Homo sapiens: one gene and its partners. The protein of the gene in region 2 purifies or fractionates together with the protein of the main gene of each other region. This does not show direct contact. Each region holds a gene or a part of one and is shown on either strand. Other genes may lie near its edges. The genes, in order: SLK, PAX7, NFIB, MYH14, NFIA and AKR1B1.

Region 1 (3,500 bases), on a different chromosome or scaffold from region 2:
TCCCAACTCTCTGCAGCAGAGCTTCAACTACAGAATTTAGGCATTGAGAAGTTACGTCAGGTAAGAAGAATTTATTAATACTTAGTGATGTAACAGTTTTTCTTAAATAACTTTAAACATTATTTCTCCAACAGTTTTCAGGTAGCAGTGTCTAAAGAACATAATTTTTAAGATGAATATACAAAGTCACCTTAGTCACCAAGATGCTACTTTGCCAACATGGCCTAGCGTCTGTCTTAGTTCGTTTTCCCTTCATCTTTGCTTAAAAACAAAACAAAACAAAAAAAACAAAAAAGGAAAACACCTAGAAGGTGAGGCAGGTGATTGTCTTCATGAGCTATCTGAGAGACTGTGGCAGAAGATGAGAACAGAATGACATACTGAAAGAGCCAAACCCACGCACAGAATGCTTCCCTTTGTTATGATCCGGTGGAATGCAAGCTGGGAATAGGATAAAATTTGGAAATCCGGCTCTGTGTTGATGGGTTAAGGCATTCAGACTCCCCAGTCATTTTAAAGAATACTTCCTGTTCCTGTAGTTTCCTGGCAAACTCTTCTTCCAGTGTCTTAAAAAGAAAGGGAAAAAGAAATTGCTATGTGCTGGTATTATATATAGAATTTATGCTGACAGCCAAGATAAAACTACTTGTCCAAAACACTTTCTTTGTATATAATCCTCAAGAAGACACGCCTGCTCAATTTTTTAAGATCATAAGCTTTGTACAGCCCTATGTGCAAGTCCAGCTCAGCCACATAAATGGACAATTTGGGTCCATTACTTAACTTCCCTATATTAGAGAACCATTTAATTCCTCAATTCCTCTGCTGTAAAAATAGGGATAATTTGCTATGTGAAGTATAAATGTGATAATGATGTACTTACACATACTATGCACTCTAATATATGGTACCTATTATTAACTATTATGTGTTTCTCCCACATGGCACTTACCCCTGCCTACTTGTTATTTTAGTTACGATGCGCCTGTATTTTCTTTCACACTAGACTATAATATAAGCTGTTTAAAGGTACAACTTAAATCAGAATCATTTTTATCCCCATAATACAGAGCAAAAATAAGTGCTTGAGAAATGTAAGAGGCACCATTGTGATGTGAATGTCTGTGCCCCCCAAATCCATATAAAAACCTAATCCCTAATGTGCGGATACTATGCATAGAAGGTGGGACCTCTGAGAAGGGATGAGGTCATGAGGTAGAGCCCTCCAAATGGGATGAGTGCCTTCATGAGGGGCTAAAGAGAGTTGTTATTCCGCCCTGTGAGGACACGGTGAGAAGTCGGCAGTCTGTAACCCAAATGAGGGCCCTCATCAAAGCGTGACCGTGTTGGCACCCTGGTCTCAGACTCCCCAGCCTCCAGTTTATGGCATTTTGTTACAGGTATCAATGACTTTGTGGAGAAGTGATTCAGGGATAAGTGGTGCTGTAGAGGTACAAAGCACAGGAAAAGAAGGAAGGATATAGGAGGGGTTCTCAAAAGAGGTGAAACATGAGCTTAGTGCTGAAGGAAAGATAAGAATTTGATAGGGAGCATAGGGAAGGCATGCCAGAAACAGAGCCGAAACACAGCACAAAGGCAGGAAGCCGAGGAGCTGGTATGAGGAGTGGCCATTATACCCAAGGCTGGAACCTGGACTGGGAACAAAGTGGCTAGTGGGAGAGGAAGCTAGAAAGGGTGACTGTGACTCAGGTGTGGCACTATGAAGGCTTCACAGTCAAACTGAGGCATTAATTTACATTTTACTCTGATGGAACTGAAGATTTCTCAACATCAGTATGACAGTGTCAAGAGATGTCCTTGAGGATAAATCCTCCGGTGATGGCAGGCGAGTGGGAAGAAAGGAAAGGGAACTAGAAATTAGAAGGCCCATTAGGAAATTCCTGAATAATTTAAACAAGCACCAGGATAGCAGTGAGAAAGAAAGGAGACACATTATGAAAAAGAGTCCAAATTAATTGGCGCCTGATTGAATGTAGGGTGTGACAGAAATGAAAAATAATTCTGGTTTCTAGCGTAGATGTCAGTTAAGAGAACAGGAATGCAGAAAAGAACATCTGATGGTGAGTGGCCTGCAGTGAGCGCGGAAACGTGAGATGGAGATGAAGGAACATCTGGCAGTGAGTGGGCCTGCAGTGAGTGGGGAAAGGTGAGATGGAGATGAAGGAAAAGGATGCTGAGTTTGGTTTTCTCTCTACTGAGTTTATACTCTTTAGTCAACACTGAACAGGTATGTAGTCATCTGTACAATGTGCCAGGAACTGTTCTAGAAACTGGGTACATATCAATAAATGAAGCGATCATGGCATGCTTTTAAGGAGTTTATATTCTCACTCGCAAGAGGGGACAATAAACAAATGTGTCTGGTGGTGATGAATTGTTACAAAGAAAAACAAAGAAAGGAGAGCAGATACAGAATGTTTGGGGTTCAGTATAGGTGCTACTGAGATACAGTGACCAAAAAAGGTCACAAGGCCTAGGTGAAATGAGGAGGAGCATAACACCCAGATGGAAAATGGGCGCTTACTGCCCAAACTGATAATAAAAACAAGAAACAATAATAGCAACAGCAACCATTCACTGAACCATTACTATAGCTCAGGTACTAGATAACTGCTATATAAACAACACCAAATAGGTAGTATCACTCTCATTTTACAAATTAGGAAAACTAGGCCTAGAAATGGTAAGTGAGAAAATTAATCAGTAAGTGTCAGTACTGAGATCTGAACACACACCTGTATGACTTTACAATTCATGCTCTATACAACTGCTACCATTTAAGTTTTGGAGTTGTCTATCTGCAACAGTTGAAGCCATGACTAGCAATAAAATCATCAAGGTAAAGACTGTTCTTTACTACAGGGGCAAAACTGAGAAATGTCTACATTTCAGGAGACAAAAGGGGATAAAGAACACAGAGAATGAGCAGAGCTGTGTCACAAAAGCCAGGTGAGAGGAGAATTTTAAGAAACAAGACTTTTAAGGAGAACAGTTAGATAAGGCCATAGGATTTGACTATTAGCAACTCACTTGTGACCACTGTCAACTAGTTCAACTAGGGTGTTTGAAGCAGATGCTAGGCTGCAAGTAGGTAAAGGAGATTTTACACCGTTTACAATTCTGTACCTTTTGAATTCTAAACTACATGAATGCATTACCTATTCAAAAAGTTTAACAATAAAGAAAATTTAAATTAAAAAGCCACACTATGGGCCGGGCATGGTGGCTCACGCCTATAATCCCAGCACTTCGAGAGGCCCAAGTGGGTGGATCACCTAAGGTTTGGAGTTTGAGACCAGCCTGGCCAACATGGCGAAGCCCCGTCTCTACTGAAAATACAAAAATTAGCCAGGTGTGGTGGTGGATGCCTGTAATCCCAGCTACCTGGGGGGCTGAGGCAGAGGAATTGCTTGAACCCAGGAGGCGGAGGTTGCAGTGAGCCGAGATCGCACCATTGCACTCCAGCCTGGGCGACAGAG
Region 2 (3,500 bases):
TGGATTCTCACCACAGACATGTGGCAGGGGGCACTTCATCCCTTCCCCCACGGATATTTGGGAGCCTGCTGAAGCTACAAAAAAATGAGCCCATCAGTTCCTCAAGTTCATTGGGACTTCCGGCATTATCAAGTCCTGTTCCCCAAACTCACCAATAACCACCATCAGCGCCCACATTATCTCTCTGACTTCATCCAAAGCAGGTCCTGTGACTTCTAACAGCACCCCGAGGCAATGAATGACTTAACCAATCACACAGGAGCAAACAGAATTCCATTGACCAATCAGGGTAGAGTTACCGGCCCAGAACCCCATCCACAATTCTCTCCACCAATAGGACATGGTCCTGCCTTTCAGGAATTGGTCACTCCTGGTGAAAAGCCAAGAGCACAGGACAGAGTCCAGGGAGGATTCCTGATTCTAGAACAAAAACCCCAACCGCAGTCAGCCTGCTACAGGAAAGAGCGCAAGGCTTCCACCCACGTGCTGTCTGCAGATGTCTGACTTTCGTGGCGGTGGGATCCTGGGTGCTGGGCTGAGACCACCTACCTGAGGAGACAGGCCGTTGCTGACCGGGTTCATGTGGTTGGAGGGCGCCGCCGGATTCATGAAGCTGTCAGAGTAGCTGGAGAAGCTGTGGCGGGCTCCGTAGGCAGAGCTGGTGTCGGCGGCTGCAGCCGCTGCAGCCAGCCCGCCCTGGTGCATGGTGGACGGTGGCAGGGGCTGAGGCCGGTGCACAGTGCTGCCCCCATCTGTAGAGAGACCCAAGAGAGGTCCTAAGCAAGTGGCCTCATCCTGGACGCTGGGCCTCTGAGAGCAGAAGGCAAGCCAAGAGACTCCTCCTCCCGGTCTCCATTCCTTGGAGGGAAGGGACCACCCTCTCATGCTACCTGGGATGAGACAAGTTGGCTCCTGGGCAGGGCAGTAGGCACTGGCCAGGTCTTGACTGACAACCCAACATTCTAGACAACCCCTAGACAGGTGCACACCAGCCACTGTTCCTCAGTGCTTGGCACACAGTAGGTGCTCAATAAATGTCAGCTGGGCTGAAAACCAGACCTTGATGGGGACTCTGTTAATCTACCCAGTCTGTTTTGTTTTGTGAGCGTCAACCACTTGCCAGGTGCTTTTACAAACGCTGCCTAAGGGTATGAAGCAAGACTGTAAATCCCATTTTACAGATGAAGAAACCAAGGCTTGGTGGGCTTGGGGCACTCACACAAGATGACCAGGCTAGTGAGTGATGGGACCAGGATTTGAATGGCCTAACTCTGGAGCCATCTCTGTTCTTTGCTGCTAGGCTGTTATTCTGCGCTCTCTGGGCCCTTCTGTGCAGCTTTGCAGAGGCTGGGACCCTCAACACTGGTTCAATTTATCTTACCAAGTCACAGTGGTGCTGGAGGGGGCTCTTTGACTCTTTCCTTGGCCTCCAGAACTCCAGCCTGCCAGTCATTTAAGAGGAGGCTTTATGAGGTAGCTATCTTTTTTAAAATTTAATTTTTTTTTTGAGATGGAGTCTCACTCTGTCGCCCAGGCTGGAGTGCAGTGGCGCGATCTGGGCTCCGTGCAACCTCCGCCTCCCGGGTTCAAGCGATTCCCCTGCCTCAGCCTCCTGAGTAGCTGGGATTACAGATGCACGCCACCATGCCCAGATAATTTTTTTTTTTTGTATTTTTAGTAGAGATGGAGTTTCACATGTTGGCCAGGCTGGTCTCCAACTCCTGGCCTCAAGAGATCCGCCCGCCTCAGCCTCCCAAAGTGCTGGGATTGCAGTTGTGAGCCACTGCGCCCAGCCCATGAGGCCAATATCAAGTAGTGGTATTCCTGGTGTGTGCTGGGACAGGGCTTCTGGGGTGACAGAATGAGAGCAAGTTCCGGTGAGGTAGGGGGAGGGAACCCTTCTTCCCCTACAAGGCTCACCTTCTCTCCTGAGACCCAGACTTTCCTTTCCTCTCCCAAGGCCCCCTGATCCCCTATCCTCTCTCACCCACTCACCTTCTTCCCTCTGCCTATCCCTTTCCAGCGCTAGAAGGGAATCTTATACTTCAAGCCACTGGGAGAACTGGGCTCAAGTGAGGCCTCCTTCCCAGGAGGACCTGAGGGCTCTGACCCCTCTCAGCCCAGCCTGGCCTAGGGCTGTTCACCCCAGAGTGGGGGGAATCCCTCATAGGGAGCTTTCTCAGGTCCTCAAAGGAGACCCTGACCTTTATTCCATCTCTGAAAATGGATCTTTCCAGAGAGAGGCAAGAAAATGAGGTCCCAGCAAATTATTTAAGCCCCTTTGTAAATTTTTTTTTTGTCATAGGTTGGAGACCAACATAATCTAAAAAAAAAAATGATTCCAACATGATTCCAACATCTTCCCAACAAGTACACACACACGTGCACATGCACACACTCATGCACACACTCACACACTCATTCACTCACTCATACGCACACACTCATGCACACACCCACACACACTCATTCACTCACTCATACGCACACACTCATGCACTCACACGCACACACTCATGCACGCACTCACACGCACATTTGTACTCATGTCACTCTCTCACTTTAAAAACTCAAAGACTGTGACTATGCATGGTCCCAAAGTCCCTGCAGAATCCGTTCCTTTCCCTCCAAAGCAGGTCAGCCCAGTGTCCTCTCCTCCAAATCCTCGCTGCTCAAAGCCTGGTCCATGCTCCACCAGCTTGGGCATTCCCAGGGGGATTTTTAGAAGTGCAGAATCTCAGGCCTCACCCAGACCAGCATTTTAGTAACATTCCTGGGAGATCCCTGGTACCATTTGAGAAGCTCAGTTCTAAACAGGTGCACAGGGGCTGCCTTGGGGATCCCACCTGGCTGCTCTGTGTCAGGGCCAAGAATTTCAAGGGCAGGATTGCATCTTTTTGCTCTCAATAGCCTGCTTACATGAAAGTAAGAAATGGTCATAAAAAAAAGAAGAGCCTTTGTAAGTGAAAGTAAAGAAAGAAGGGAAGGGGCACCACTGAGATGGCAGGACGGGGCCAAGACACTCACCTTGGGAGATGGTGGTGGTGGGGTAGGTGGAGTCCGGCAGCTGGTAGGGGGGCAGCGTGGGCATGCCGGTGGGTGGGAAGCCTCCTGGCAGAAGGTGGTTGAACGCCGCCAGCTGGTTGGCTCCTGCCTGCTTACGCCAACGGGCGCGGCGGTTACTGAACCAGACCTGGGAGGTGGAGAGCAGAGAATGGAGACCCCTCGGCCAGGTTCCTGGCAGAGAGCTGCAACACATGTAGACCCAGTTGCCCAAGCCATCACCCTCTGATCCAGCCAGCATCCTCCTGCAGGCCCCGGCATTGTGCAGCACAGGACGCTTTGCAGAGTGATTTCATAGGTATGACCCCATTCTGCCCTCACAACCACCAGTGAGGGGGTTCTATATTATCCCCATTTTACAGATGAGGAAACCAAGACCCAAAGAAAGTGGGTGACTTGTCCATGGGCCAGGTTGAGTCAGTGGTCCAGCCAGTCCT
Region 3 (3,500 bases), on a different chromosome or scaffold from region 2:
GATAGAAAAGAGAGATGTCTTGTCTGAAGGTGAAGCTAACAGCATTAGGAAAGGATTATTCTACTTTATACACGGTTCCTATTATACAAAATCCTGAGAGTTTTTTTGTTGCTAGTTTTTCTTTTTCTTTTTTTTTTTTTTTTGAGATGAGAGTAATATGCTTCCTTAGAAGGTGATATGTATCTTGAAAAAGTGAAGAAAAACTGAGAACAATATAGGCAGATTATCACCTAATATGCCCTCTTAACTTATAAAGAAATTGAAATATACGTAAAACAAGCACTGAATAATTAAAGAAATGTGTAACACTAAGGGCCTGATTTTAATTTGCATAATTTTTCCCCTAACAGTGCCTAATTAAGACATCAGTTAAAAAAAAAATCCAATGGAACTCTAAGATTTTCCACACTGAATTAACGTTAAGGACTTTTAATGGATGTCTTAATTAGACTTTGTTATTCATGGAAATTCTACACAAATTAAAATCAGACCTTGTGTGCACTGTTCCCAGCTGAGTCTAGCAAAATGCTCTATGGAACTGAGACTTCTGAATCCATGAGCTGACAACAAATTTTATTTCTAAACGATATACTAAGATCCCACTCTCACTTAGCTGTCTTTAGTACTTCAGTCATGAAAAGTGCTACAACATTTTAACATTTTCTTCTAAAATACAAATAATAATTTTAACTTCAAATTCAAAATTCAATATTGAGTTTAATATCTCAGTCAGTCAAACTAAAAGTAATGATAACTTTTTAAGTAACCCAAAGGGTCCTGGATGCGTTGTTATTCTAAATTAAAAGTTCAGAAAGGACCATTTTGTTTCATTTTAACAAATTAAGACCAAAGGGATTTTTTTCTCACCTTTCTTTGCTAATTTAAATTGATAGACACACACTATTTACTAGCATTTCAGGAATGTTCCACCGTAGTAATGACGGAATGTTTGTGAAAATTCTCCAAAATATTAAAAGGTATAATAAGTGGACAGGAGTCTTAGAGGTAAAGCAGCAAAGCTAAATATCAGATCCTAATATCAAAATTACATTACATGTTTTAGATATTACAATTATTGATAGCCCCAGGTCTGGCACAAAGACTGTCTACTTGATTGTGGAAAATGCTCATATACCAAATTCCTATGAAGTAACCTCTTGGTAGAAGAAACCATATGTCTAGGGGAGTGAGAAATGCTCATGAGTCACTACACTTACAAAATGAATCCCCAAAACCACTGCACAATGTTTCCAAAAAAAAGAAAGACGCTTCTAGTAATGTCACTCATTATTAAATGTAAGTCATGTCTCTGCAAAGAATATTCAAGTAGTCATCAAACACTGAGAATGTTTACATTACCAAAGCTTATTTTAATACCTAATAGTTGGTCTATAAATACAACTGTAAGTTCTTTTGTGTGTGTTTATTTTAGCACATACCTTACTCCTGCCTGAAATAAGCACATTGTCTCTGTGTCAAACCAGGTATTTAAGAGGTGTGAACTCCAGCCCAGAGCTTTCCTGTCAATGTACTTTCTGCATAAACTTTCCCTTCAGTCAGTGAAAATCCAAAAACATTAAACCATCTTCACAAATGTACCCTTTGGGGCAACACACTTCCTACCTGTCATTCAGCCACCTTTAAATAAAAACTTATTGAGTCACCAAGCAACTTCCTGAAGATGGATTTCAAGGCTTGACGTTCTGCCAGACACACTGTCTGACTAACCTTTGTGTCTCAGAATTAGATCTGTCCCATCTCCCTTAGGTGCTAATCTTATTTTCTCTCTTATTTTTACCTGGCTGGTTTGTGGACTGGATGGGTCATAAGAAGGTACATAGTTCTTCAGAGTATCCTGAGGATTCAGGTGGGGAGGATATCTGATTGTTGGATGAGAAAAGTAGCTCGATGGGGCTGGAGGAAGGATAGCTTGTGTTGGAAATGGCAACGGTGAAGGTGGAGGTGGAGTTCGAGTTGAGATGACTGCAGAAGACAGAAAAGGAAAGATTGACTCATCAGCTGGTTACCTTATTGCTCCATTCTGATCCTGAAGAATGCTGTGAAACTACAAAACTGGTAACCATTCATTTTTGTCCCCATGATTTAACCAAGCTCTCCTAAATCAACAGTTACTTTTTCATTTTTATTCTCAACACCAGTACGGCTAACTACACAGAGATAAAACATCACTCTAGAAAATTAACAATCTTGCTTCCTGGCTCTGTGAGTGGTTACAAAATCAGTTTCTCTTTTATAGGTTATGTCAATACTTGATAAAACACTTCTTTGAGCAAAGATATATCCCGTTGAAAACATATTCTTTGATTATAAAATCTTTAGGCCGGGTGCAGTAGCTCACACCTGTAATCCCAGCACTTTGGGCGGCTGGGGCAGGTGGATCACCTGAGGTCAGGAGTTCGAGACCAGCCTGGCTAACATGGTGAAACCCCATCGCTACTGAAAATACAAAAAATTAGCTGAGCATGGTGATGGGCACCTGTAATCCCAGCTACTTGGGAGCTTAAGGCAGGAGAATCACTTGAATCCAGTAGACGGAGGTTGCAGTGAGCCGAGATGGCGCCATTGCGCTCCAACCTGGTGACAGAACCCCATCTCAAACAAACAAACAAACAAAAAACATTTTGTCTCATAAGCCCCATCTCAAACAAACAAACAAACAAAAAACACTTTGTCTCATAAGTCCAGAGCAAGTCACAGCATTAAGTAGAGGGCAAAAGAGCCAAAAATTTTCTACCAAAATTAAAAACAAAAGTGAAATTCAATTTCAAATAAAACGTTTCCCTGTACATCCTACCTGGCAATTGTTTAGAAGGAAAGACAATAACTAATACAACATCATCTCATGTCATTTATAATTGTCTGGTCATGGTATAAATGCTTATGAACATTGGAACATAGAGCTAGAAACTCTCCTAATGAAAATGTTTCTTTCAAAACCAAAAGAGCTCTATTCTGCAACTATTTTTCTTTCTACTTTAACTTTTACTATATGTAGTTTAAAAGATATTGTTAATATAAAACCAAGAATAAAACACACAGCAATGAAAATTTAAGCTTTCATATAGGTAAGTATATTACTTTACCCATATATCACATATTTTATAATAATTTTATAAAGGGAAATACTATATAAAACACATGCAATGTGGACAATGTTCAATTTTACTATAACTTCTCAACATTAGTATTCTTATAATTTATTGTTCAGTTTTTGAAATATAAATCTTAAGTTTGAAAGATGGAGAAAGAGTGTAATCGTATGATCATTATCTCTAAAATGTTGAGAGAAATAATCATAGAAATACAAATTAAAACTACCAACAAATATATGTAGAAGTGAAAAGTAAATGTCTTTCTATTTTAATATTTCCCAATTCAAATAATAGGAAATTATAAACGATAAATGTCTAATGTTTTATGAGACAACTTAAAGAATATGAAAAAAAATAAATTTTAGCCATAACCTACAAAGGGAAATC
Region 4 (3,500 bases), on a different chromosome or scaffold from region 2:
AATGGGGTGTTGATAATTCTAAAGGGGTTTCACATGGTGAACGGCACATAGTAAGTGCTCAAGAAACGCGAGCTGGTACTATCACGCTTGTTTGTACTTTTACATGCAGTTTAGTTAGAAGAAGGGGTTCTGCTGCTACAGAGTCTGGAAACTTCCAAGGGAGCCAACAAGGAGGGAAAGGAAGAGTGAGAGACCTCCACAGTAAGAGGAGAGGGGACAGATGTTCAAAACCAGGTCCCCAGCCCAACAGGTCCACCCTCCTCCTCCAGCAAGCCTCACCCATCGATGCACAGAGACACCCACCCCCTGGCGGAGAAATAGCAGAGCTGCACCTCTCTGCAGATCCTGGGGGCGACGGTGGGAAGGAGCCAAGGAAAGAGAACTGCTGGAAGCCCCCATGTTCTGGGGAGTGAGGACAGATGTGTGGGTGGGTGGAGGGGAGATGGCAGAGAGATGGCGGAGAGAGATGCATGAAAAGAGGGGAAGGAGAGGAGGTGGCAGGAAGAAAAAGAGGAGAGGGTTATTAGTCAACAGTACAGAGCAAAGCAAGATGGAAAACCAGAATGTTGGCCATAAACTTCTGAACTCCTGTTCATCTTTGTATCCACACACTGTTGGCCAAAAGGACGAATGTCCTCTGTAAGAATTCAGTGCAAAGAATAAAAAATCTCTCCCTCTAGAGGTTGTGTCTGTTTTAGTAGGTTGCCCTTTTTGCTCTGGCTGCCAGGAAGCTCAAGAATGAACTTGATGCTCCCAGGCCACTTGTTGTTTTTGCCTCTCAGAGGAGAGCTAATCTCATTTCCGTTTTTCCCTGGGCTGTCAGGATGCTGGGCATCCAATTCTGGGCTCAAAGCAGCTCTAGCAGAGATTGGGCAAAAATGGCCCCGATTCCCCACTTTCCCCTGTATTGACACCCTTTGCCTGTGTCTTGCAGCTCCTTGAATCTGGGAAGACCTTGTGACTAGCTTTGTTTAGGAGGATTATGGAGGAAGTGACATTATGGCAGCTCCCCAGCTACTCGGGAGGCTGAGCCAGGAGGTTTTGCAGCTTCCACTTTTTCTTTTGGAACCCTCTGAGAGTCAGGCACACACAGAGTGTGACAAATGAGGGCTCACTGTGGAGAATCATGTGTTTATGAAGACAGCACAAATATTTTAAAAGGGCAGCAGATTTTCAGCCGGGAGATGATTCTCGTAGCATAATCTGGTTCTGTTCCTGAACATCAAACTCTGCTTTCCAATCTCCTTGTGTAAATACTATATGAGACATAAAAATAAAATCTATCTTTCTAGCATGAGCTCACAAGATCAAGACCCTCCATGCTGTTTTGCTCTGTGAGTGTGTTTTGGGAACCACTCACCTTGCTCATTTTGTTTTCTTTTTTTTTCCTTTTTTTTTTTTTTTGAGACAGAGTTTCACTCTTGTTGCCCAGGCTGGAGTGCAATGGCACGATCTCGGCTCACCACAACCTCCACCTCCCGGGTTCAAGCGATTCCCCTGCCTCAGCCCCCCGAGTAGCTGGGATTACAGGCATGTGCCACCACGCCCAGCTAATTTTGTATTTTTAGTAGAGATGAGGTTTCTCCATGTTGGTCAGGCTGGTCTCAAACTCCCGACCTCAGGTGACCCGTCCACCTTGGCCTCCCAAAGTGCTGGGATTACAGGCGTGAGCCACCGCGCCTGGCCGCTCATTTTGTTTTCTTGCCAAATTGCATGGACTGGTATTTCTACAGCTACCTTTTCATGTCAATAAAAGATTAAGGCAAACTGACAAATGCCAGAAACTTGGAACCTGGAAAAAACAGGATGCCAGTTCTGCCAGCTTTCTAAAACCATTTCTCAAACCTCCTCTAAGGATGGGGGGGCAGGGGCAGTGGCAGAAAAGGCTTGGAAAAGGTCAGAGTCCTACCACAGGGCATTTGGCATCTCTGCCTATGACCCCTAGAAGTGTCAATCCAAAAAGACAGTCACACTCATGGGGGCCTTTTGGGGGCAGGAAAGCCCTCCAAAACTGTATCTCAGTCTGTTTTTTCTTTCTTCTTCCCTGGGGGCGTGAAGGGAACTTTGTAAGAAAACAAAGAAAGCAAAGCCTAAAAGTTGACTGACCTGCAAAAGATCATCATTCTGTGTTCTCTTATTGTTATAAATTATTTCTCAGTAGAATTTTTTTTTTTTTTTTGGGACAGAGTCTCACACTGTCACCCAGGCTGGATTGCAGTGACACAATCTTGGCTCACTGAAACCTCTACCTCCCAGATTCAAGCGATTCTCCTGCCTCAGCCTCCCTAGTAGCTGAGACTACAGGCATGCACCAGGACATCTGGCTAATTGTTGTACTTTTAGTAGAGACAGGGTTTCACCATGTTGGCCAGGCTGGTCTTGAACTCCTGACCTCAAGTGATCCGCCCACCTTGGCCTCCCAAAAGTGCTGGGATTACAGGTGTGAGCCACCATGCCCAGCCAAATCTCCTAATTGTTTAGGGAACACAGGCCATCTAAAAATAATAAGTTTACTTCTTCCTGTTCGATATTCATACTTTTTCTGGTCTGATTGCATAGGCTAGTATTGCTAAAAAAACGATGTTTAACAGTAGTGTTAGTGGGTATCTTTGCCACGTTTCTGATTAAGGCGGAGTGCTTTATCCTTGAGAAGGATGCTGGCTTATCAATCAAATCAATAGTCAATCAATTAATCTATGGATCCATCCATCACTGATTTGAAATACTATTTGTGACACTGGCTATTCTGGGTCTGAGCAGAAAACTCAGGTTCAGACCTCCGCCTCTGAAACAAAGGTGCTCACGCTGTGGATTTGGAGAATGGCCGCACAGACCCCTAGAGCCGGGGTGGGGGAAGTGGGTCCTCACCGTCTTTCCAGATCTCTGCCGTCAGCCGGTCTGTGCTCTGGTGGAGCAAGGCTGCGACGTTGTCATTCAGAGGGTCCATGTTTTTCATCAGCCACTCGTTGGCCTTGTAGTCGACCTGAATGAAGTCAGGTAGAGGAGGGCGATGACTTGCAGGCTCAGACATTCTCTGGATTTCCTAAGGAGCCTTCCAGAAGCTCTGAGACTCCCAGGTCTGGAGCTCACCATGGACAAGCGAGCACTGGTGCCACCTTGTGTCCATATTCTGAACTGCACCCCACCAGCATGGTCCCCTCTCTCTCCTTCCCCTCTATGCCCCCTGCCACCTCTGTGACCTCCACCACCACCACTTTCTTCCTATTCATTCCGCTCCAGCCACCCTGGCCTCCGCACTGTTCCTCAAACATGCGAGCTTACTCCCACCTCGGGGTTTTACCCCTGCGGTTCCTGCCACCTGGGGTTCTGTCTCTGTGGGTTTCACACCACTGGCTCCTTCTGGGTACTCAGGGCTTTGCTGTGGGGCTCCATAGAGTCACGATCTTGGCCGCTACAATTCTCTGCATATGTGCCCCCCACCAGACAGCGGTCCCCCGAGGGCAGGGCCCAGGTCTGACTCACGGCCTAGCAGAGGGCTG
Region 5 (3,500 bases), about 42 Mb from region 2:
GTTGAGTAGGTTTATAGGACAGGTATCAGGCTTCCGAGACACTGAAACAGCTCCTTCAGTGATTGAAAGGATCTTTGCTATTCCTGATGCAAGCAAAATTAAGTAAAGGTAATAATGGTAGCAGCATGGAAGCAATCAGTAACTACTGCACTAAAAGATTACCGTGCAAAAGTGTTCTCTTTCTACCTTAAAACTAACAAGTACTCATACTGCTGCCATTAGGACAACAGCAACTTGCTTTGTCACTGGCTAATTAACAATTAAAGCAATTACCTGACAAATTGTGGTCACTTATTAATCTTTCAAACTGAATTTTAAGACTGCTAAAAATACTTCTAATGTTAGAAAATTCCTCATCTGCAAAAAGTGAAGATGGCTCACTGTGATTTAGCTTTTAGGCCTAATGTCACTTGAAAATTAGCAAAGGCCTTAGTTGAATTAAACATAAATTAATTTGTTTAATTTTAGATTTTAAATGTCCCCACACAGCTGCCTCCAAGCTTTTATTCTACCCCATGGCAGGTAATAATATCAAATATAAATTGTGAAACTGTCATTCTATGGCCTAAAAATAGCAACCTGCCTCTATCCAAGAAATGAGTCCTTAAAAAGTATAACCTTTCACAAAATCTAACTAATTTGACTGAGAATCTTTCTAGAATCTGATTACATTACCAGAAGTTTATACAGAAGTGGTTAAAAAAAAAAAAACAACAACTCTCCAGAAACTTCTCGGTTGAGTGCCTACTAATGAACAAAGGTTAACTTTATCTAAAAGGTCAAATGCCTGGTGGCTAAGGTTATGACCTTAACAACTTAAATTGTGACCTTGCCACGTGCCGGGTATATTGTAGATTCTGATACAGATCATCTGGTAAAGACTGGTCATAAATTAGCTTTACTGTTACACACCCACAAAGAAAACCATTTGCCACAATACCATAGTATCCCCAAGTTGTCATATGATACATGGGAAGGACAACTCAAATTGAGACCAAATTAAGGGCATAAAATGGTTTTGTTCTTTTAACAAGATGAAATTCTCAGGCTTATGAAATCACTCCAATTTCATTACACTTGTTACTGCTTATCAGCCACAAAATTCACAGTTCTAATGCCACTGGATTTAGAGGGAAAAAACTGGAATGTAGTTTATGTATTATATTTTAGCATGTCAATAAGTCTTAGAATAAATCACCTCCGCTTTAAAAAAAAAAAGATTGATTCTGCATTTGCTTCTAGTATTCTCACGTATGTTCTGAGATTTCAACTTCCTACCAAAGAAAGGTGGACACATAAAGCAAGAATTATTACACACAAATTTCAGAAGGAAAAGAAGATCTAATTTCTATGACCATCTAGGGGGAAAAAAAGGCATTCTGGAAAGGAAAAAAATATAACAATTTAAAAGAAAGAGCGAGAAAAAACGCATTATAGGTGAAAAGGCCACAATGGTTTTGGCATGTATCTTGAAGCACGTTTCAGAGTCTCTGCCTCCTGCCAATACTGGCAAGTTCTCAAAACTTTTAAGGAGGTAAAAACATTGTTTAGTGTTTACAAATCTTCAGTATTATAACAGATGCTTGTCAAATCAGTTGTATGTAAGTTGACCGATCTACCTCATATTTGTATTGGCAGCTTCCCTTCCACAAATAACAGGTCTCTGAATCTCTTAAATCAAATTTGAAATATTTTCAGACAAAAGACCCTTAATATTTTCTTTTACAGTCTTCCTGTTGCGCGCACAGAGAAGCAGCCATTACTGCGGTCCCGTGAAAACCAATGGCCAAACATTTGGCTGGCATTCAGGCATAACAAGGGATTCTGGGATACATCAGGAAAACCAAACCGAAGAGTAGTCTGATCTATGCTGCTGTCAATAAATCTTTCATAAGCAATAAGGATGCTAACTCTCCTAAGTAACCTTCTAAATGTCATTTTACCAACATAACCCCTTCAGGCATTGCAACAACCAACAACTGTGTTAGTTCAAGGATTGGGAGCAATAGCACAGTAACAAACCAACGACGAAAAAGAAGGCACGTAATGAGAACAGCGAAAAGATTGCATTTCTTTAAATAACAGAGAAATGTTTAAGACGAAAACTTAGAATGGACACTGCTTACACCGACAAAAACTTCACAGGTATTTCATTTTGATGTTATCTTATATGGAAGCACACATCATGATCTGCATCACCTGTTGGCACTTTCAAGTTTCGATGTTGGTCATCTATTCGGGATAATTTATAGGTTATATTTTTCTAAATATCTAAAAGGTAAAAACAAGATTTTAAAGAGTGCTTCTTGAAAGCACCTGTAACACCTATACTTTTTTTGCGTTTTGCTGTGCTTAACATATGCAGACACATTTTTTAAAAATTTTAACTTTACTTTTTCAGTAAACAAAACAAATGAACAACAACAGGGTTAAGAGTGGGTTAAAAAAGGGCTACTTATTCCTGCTTAGAGGTCACTTGAGAGGTGCTGACTTTTCATTCTTGCTACCCAGAATTGGCTAAAGCAAAAGGCAATTCTTATAATTAAGTATACATTTTTGAAAACCCAAATATTTGAAACACTTACAGCTCACATCCTCTAAAATACTCATCTATCCCCTGCCAACAGAATGCAAATGATGATGTGACATGCTTGCAAAGCTAATTTCTCCAGTTTCTTATGTAAGGGCAGATGGATAACAAAAGTTCTCTTTCTAAAACATATATTGAGAAAAATAATAGAGAACAGGCTATCAGCTGGCTTCTTTAAAAACTCACTAACATTTTTAGAATTAAAAATGTTTTGAAGAAAAGTGCAGTGTTTTTACAGGTAACATCTCTCCTTTGTAAAAAAAAAAAAAAAAAAAGAAAAAAAAACGTTAAATATTTGAACCCCAAAACAACCTACTGGTAGGATTCCACAACCCTCTTTCTTCCATCTGGCTCAAGTAACTGCCATGAAGGTAATCTAGCAAGACCGATATGTACATATATAAAGTCAACAAGTTACACAAGACCTGAGCGTTCACATAGCACAATGAGCCTTTTGTCTAAAACAAGACGAAAGGAACAAAGTAAAAATGCATTATTTTATCCAGTCCTCAATAGTTTTATCCTGCATGCTATTCTAAACACTGAAACATGCACAGGTAAGACATGCCTTGAAAAAACAGAAAAAAAATTTAAGATTTTACAATCAAAGCAACTCACTACATCAATTATCAATAGCAATTTTTCAATGTGTTCATGCAATATACAGGTTGGTTATTTTTAATATTAACCTCTCCATCAATTACTGAAAGAGCTGGTTTGTTTCCCTTAGCTATCTGAGACAACACTAAGAATTCCTAAATACAAAGCTACTAAGTCTGCGTATTAATGTGATTATTTTTCCTTCCTAAATGATCAGCAATTTGATAGTAATCTACCTCCAACTTCTTAATTGGCAAGGGGTTCAAGAGGCCTCAGTAGGTTAAAAACACTCCCAGCAGAAAACCAACTA
Region 6 (3,500 bases), on a different chromosome or scaffold from region 2:
CAGGTAGGCTGCATGGACACGTATCCCCCAACTTTCACTATCCTGCTATGATCACAGAGCTGAGCAATAAACATGTGCAGCGGGCTGTTGAATGAACAGAGCACATTCCTTTGGAGAGCTGGGGTAGAAACAAATGAAAAGAAAAACCCCCCAGGGCCATAGCAGCTGCAGACATCTGTGTTTTGACATCAGCTATTTTCAACAGGCTTTGGGGAAGAAAGGGGCCCAGTTGAACAAGCCCGTTACCAGAGCCTGTTAGCATGGAGCTCACTCTCCACCTCAGAGGGAGCAGCGAGGCAGGGTGGGGATGCTCATCGAAGGTGTGGGTTAAGAGGGGACGACCCTCAGAGGACCTGGCGACCTCTTATTTGACTGGAGGACCTCAGAAGCTGCTCTTGCAGCCTTCCCCACTCTGCACGGTTGAAGGAACAGAGAATCTCAATTTCCAGAAAGAATGCCTTACCACAGGCCCTGAGTGGTGTCCGGGCACAACCACCACTGATGACAGCAGGGAGAGCAGAGGACATCCCTACCCCAGAAAGAACAACTGGGGCCCAGGCAGGAAACTGCCCAGGACACACTGAACTTTCTCCAGGCTTGATGGCGCCTTGATTGATTTTTCTCTGAGGAGCTGCTGAGGGCACACTCCGCAGGCTCAGCCTAGCCACGCACTGCCTGCCATGCAACTGGTGCGGGGACAGGAACATGACTCAATCCAGGCCATAAGACTCAATCTTTGCACTTGAATTGGAACCCCTGAGTCCAGCCCCGGTTCTGCTGGGGTCACTGAGCTGGGAGAATGTCAGCCTGGAGCTGCTGCAGGAAAGTGGAGGGAGGCCAAATCCTGGTGACAACATTTACAACCCTGAATCTCAAACACCTAATGTCAGCGGCTGTTGTTTGGGGAAGTCAATCAATCCCCACCCCAAACACACTTTTTTTTTTCCTGCTTAAGATTAAAGTGGTTTTTCAGTTCTTTGGAACCAAAAGAGCACAGACTAGGATAATCAAGCTTGCGTTGGCACGACATGAAAAAAAAGTTGTGAGAGGTTTTTCTAGAAAAGTAAAAGACAGCAATGACTGCAAGAGGTCACGAAGAAGCTGCTGATCATTCCTTGGATATGTGCCATTCGCTGGAGACATGTGTGCTGGGAGGCTGATCAAAGGTGCTGGAGGGAAAAAGTCACCTCTGCAATGAAAATGTACGAGGATCCACAACCACATTCTATGTTAATGATCTCAATGTACAGCCCTTCCCTGAGAGAAACTAATTTGCCTTATGAAAAATGAAGCAGCCAACTTAAGCTATGGTGAGAAACCATTCACTAAACTTGGGAATGCCAACACAGGATGACAACATCTCCCCATTCCATGTCAACAAAGAGAAAATGCAAACAGAAGGAGGGGTCCAGATTGACTTCTAAAAAGAAGGTAAACTATGAAAACATGCTGGGTGGCATCCAGGCACAGCCATTACTGATGAGAGCTGTAGAAATGCAGTATATGAAACACTCCAATTACAGCTCAATCATACAAATCCTACATGTTTCTAACCCGATCCTGCCACTAATCTGTGTGCCCTTGATGGGCAAAACCATGCATGCCCATTCCTCCCAGAACTTCTGGCTCTGCAAAGCTCTACGTTGGGCAGTGACTTGAAATGCTCTGGGCTGATGGCACCAAGTGATGGCAGTGAGAAGCCTCTGCCCTTGAGTCCTCCACCACCTCCTTCAAGACAGCGGTCCTAGTTCCTCCTTTGATAACACCGGCTGGCTAATACCAACTCTGAGACACTGATAACTAAAATCAGTGTCTCCCTCCTACACAGATACAACACTCCTTTTAAAACCTAGTCTTCTTCCCTTTTGCTTACAGGTCTTGCTAGTTACTTCAAGATACCCCTCCCTCTCTTCCCTCTGCAAGTCAAAAAGCAAGCCACAGTGCTAAACAGGAAGACGGTCACAGGACAGTGTTTATGGTAAAACCAAAGTATCTCAGAGATTGGATATTTTGCAATATTAACCACGGGGATCTCTGGGAACAGGGAACTCTTCATTTTTGAAATGTTCTCTAGTTAGCAGGTGTTACTACTGAAATCAAAGGATAAGGGGAGGGGGCAAAGGAAACTTCACTTTGGGTAAAGAAACGGTCCTGAGTAGGAAGCATGAGAATGCTGTGCTGATAATCCTGGAGCAAGGAACAGGAAACGATCACTCAGAATCAGGTTTGGCAGCAGAAATTAACTTCCTCCTGTTCTGTTTTAATCAATTTGTCCCAAATTCTAAGACACTGCTGTTTCCAACTAGTTGAGATGTGCATGGACCAGGACTGACCCTGTAGGGGCAGGGCTTATTTAAATGTCTTTGGTCTTGAAGAGGAAGAGATGGGGGCTTTAGAGACACCAGGGAAGTGAACAGTAAATCTGGCTCCTGTGTTACCTCCATGCCCACAGCGCCTCAACCCTCACCCCATCCAAGGATCTTGGGCCATCACAAGCTTACCCCACTTGGGGAAGGTGGAGCAAGTCTTTCCTGGCACATTTTCTTTTACCTCATGCATTCTTAAAGTGGGTGCTATTGTCCCCAAAGAGACAAAAATTAGTTCTCTGGGGCAAAAAAACCCCCCTCAGCTTATAGAACAGCTTGTGACCCTCTAGAAGGCTACTGGCCATAAGCAGAAGTACAATATTATCTCTGATATTACAATTTTATTTTGGGGCAAATTAGGGGAAAAAAAAGTCTCACAAGGCTCCTAGGTGGGAGGGAGGTAGTGATCATGGCAAAAGATGGAGAAACATAGTTGTACCTTCAGCCCTAGGAGTATTCTGTGAGCATACATAGGAGACTTACAATGACTTTTACCTCCAACAATTTTTCAACTAGATTAAAAACACTATCAGTAACAAGACACTGGTGGGCACCAGACATCATCTCTGTTTTAAAAGCTTCCTGGCTTTACAATGCTGTGATGGGTTTTTGTTGTTGTTGTTGTTTCTGAGACCGAGTTTTTTTTTGCTCTTGTCGCCTAGGCTGGAGTGCAGTGGCACAATCTCAGATCATGGCAACCTCTACCTTCTGGATTCAAGTGATTCTCCTGCCTCAGCCTCCCAAGCAGCTGGGATTACAGGCACCCACCACCATGCCGGGCTAATTTTTGTATTTTTAGTAGAGAGGGGGTTTCACCATGTTGGCCAGCTGGTCTCGAACTCCTGACCTCAGGTGATCCACCCGCCTTGGCCTTCCAAAGTGCTGGGATTACAGGTGTAATTGTTTACTATCCAATGTAGAAGGCAAGACTGCCAGAAAGAAACCCTGTCCAAGCCACATGGGTCTGGGGCAGAGATGGTCTCCCCATCTGCCTGAAACCCTCACCTGAGAAGAGAATGGAGTTTGAGGACCTTCAAGAGTAGAGACTACCAGAGCCCTGCTGAGGGTCTGAAAGGTACAACACAGCCGCTACGGCATGGGAAGACCCAGGAGAATAAGGAACTGCACCTGCCT

What was found.
Region 1: the proteins of PAX7 (region 2) and SLK purify together in Homo sapiens (affinity purification with mass spectrometry; one large-scale study listed by BioGRID and IntAct). This does not show direct contact.
Region 3: the proteins of PAX7 (region 2) and NFIB purify together in Homo sapiens (co-immunoprecipitation; one large-scale study listed by IntAct). This does not show direct contact.
Region 4: the proteins of PAX7 (region 2) and MYH14 purify together in Homo sapiens (affinity purification with mass spectrometry; one large-scale study listed by BioGRID and IntAct). This does not show direct contact.
Region 5: the proteins of PAX7 (region 2) and NFIA purify together in Homo sapiens (co-immunoprecipitation; one large-scale study listed by IntAct). This does not show direct contact.
Region 6: the proteins of PAX7 (region 2) and AKR1B1 purify together in Homo sapiens (co-immunoprecipitation; one large-scale study listed by IntAct). This does not show direct contact.

What each region holds. Positions count from the first base shown.
Region 1 is NC_000010.11:104,022,640-104,026,139, reverse strand, and holds part of SLK (STE20-like serine/threonine-protein kinase), read right to left. Parts: intron 567-3,500; coding exon 420-566; 3' UTR 1-419. UniProt on the Homo sapiens protein: Mediates apoptosis and actin stress fiber dissolution.
Region 2 is NC_000001.11:18,700,346-18,703,845, reverse strand, and holds part of PAX7 (paired box protein Pax-7), read right to left. Parts: intron 3,194-3,500; coding exon 3,028-3,193; intron 753-3,027; coding exon 550-752; intron 1-549. UniProt on the Homo sapiens protein: Transcription factor that is involved in the regulation of muscle stem cells proliferation, playing a role in myogenesis and muscle regeneration.
Region 3 is NC_000009.12:14,118,642-14,122,141, forward strand, and holds part of NFIB (nuclear factor 1 B-type), read right to left. Parts: intron 1,984-3,500; coding exon 1,799-1,983; intron 1-1,798.
Region 4 is NC_000019.10:50,252,122-50,255,621, reverse strand, and holds part of MYH14 (myosin-14), read right to left. Parts: intron 2,984-3,500; coding exon 2,869-2,983; intron 403-2,868; coding exon 304-402; intron 1-303. UniProt on the Homo sapiens protein: Cellular myosin that appears to play a role in cytokinesis, cell shape, and specialized functions such as secretion and capping.
Region 5 is NC_000001.11:61,089,061-61,092,560, reverse strand, and holds part of NFIA (nuclear factor 1 A-type), read right to left. Parts: intron 1-3,500.
Region 6 is NC_000007.14:134,452,601-134,456,100, forward strand, and holds part of AKR1B1 (aldo-keto reductase family 1 member B1), read right to left. Parts: intron 1-3,500. UniProt on the Homo sapiens protein: Catalyzes the NADPH-dependent reduction of a wide variety of carbonyl-containing compounds to their corresponding alcohols.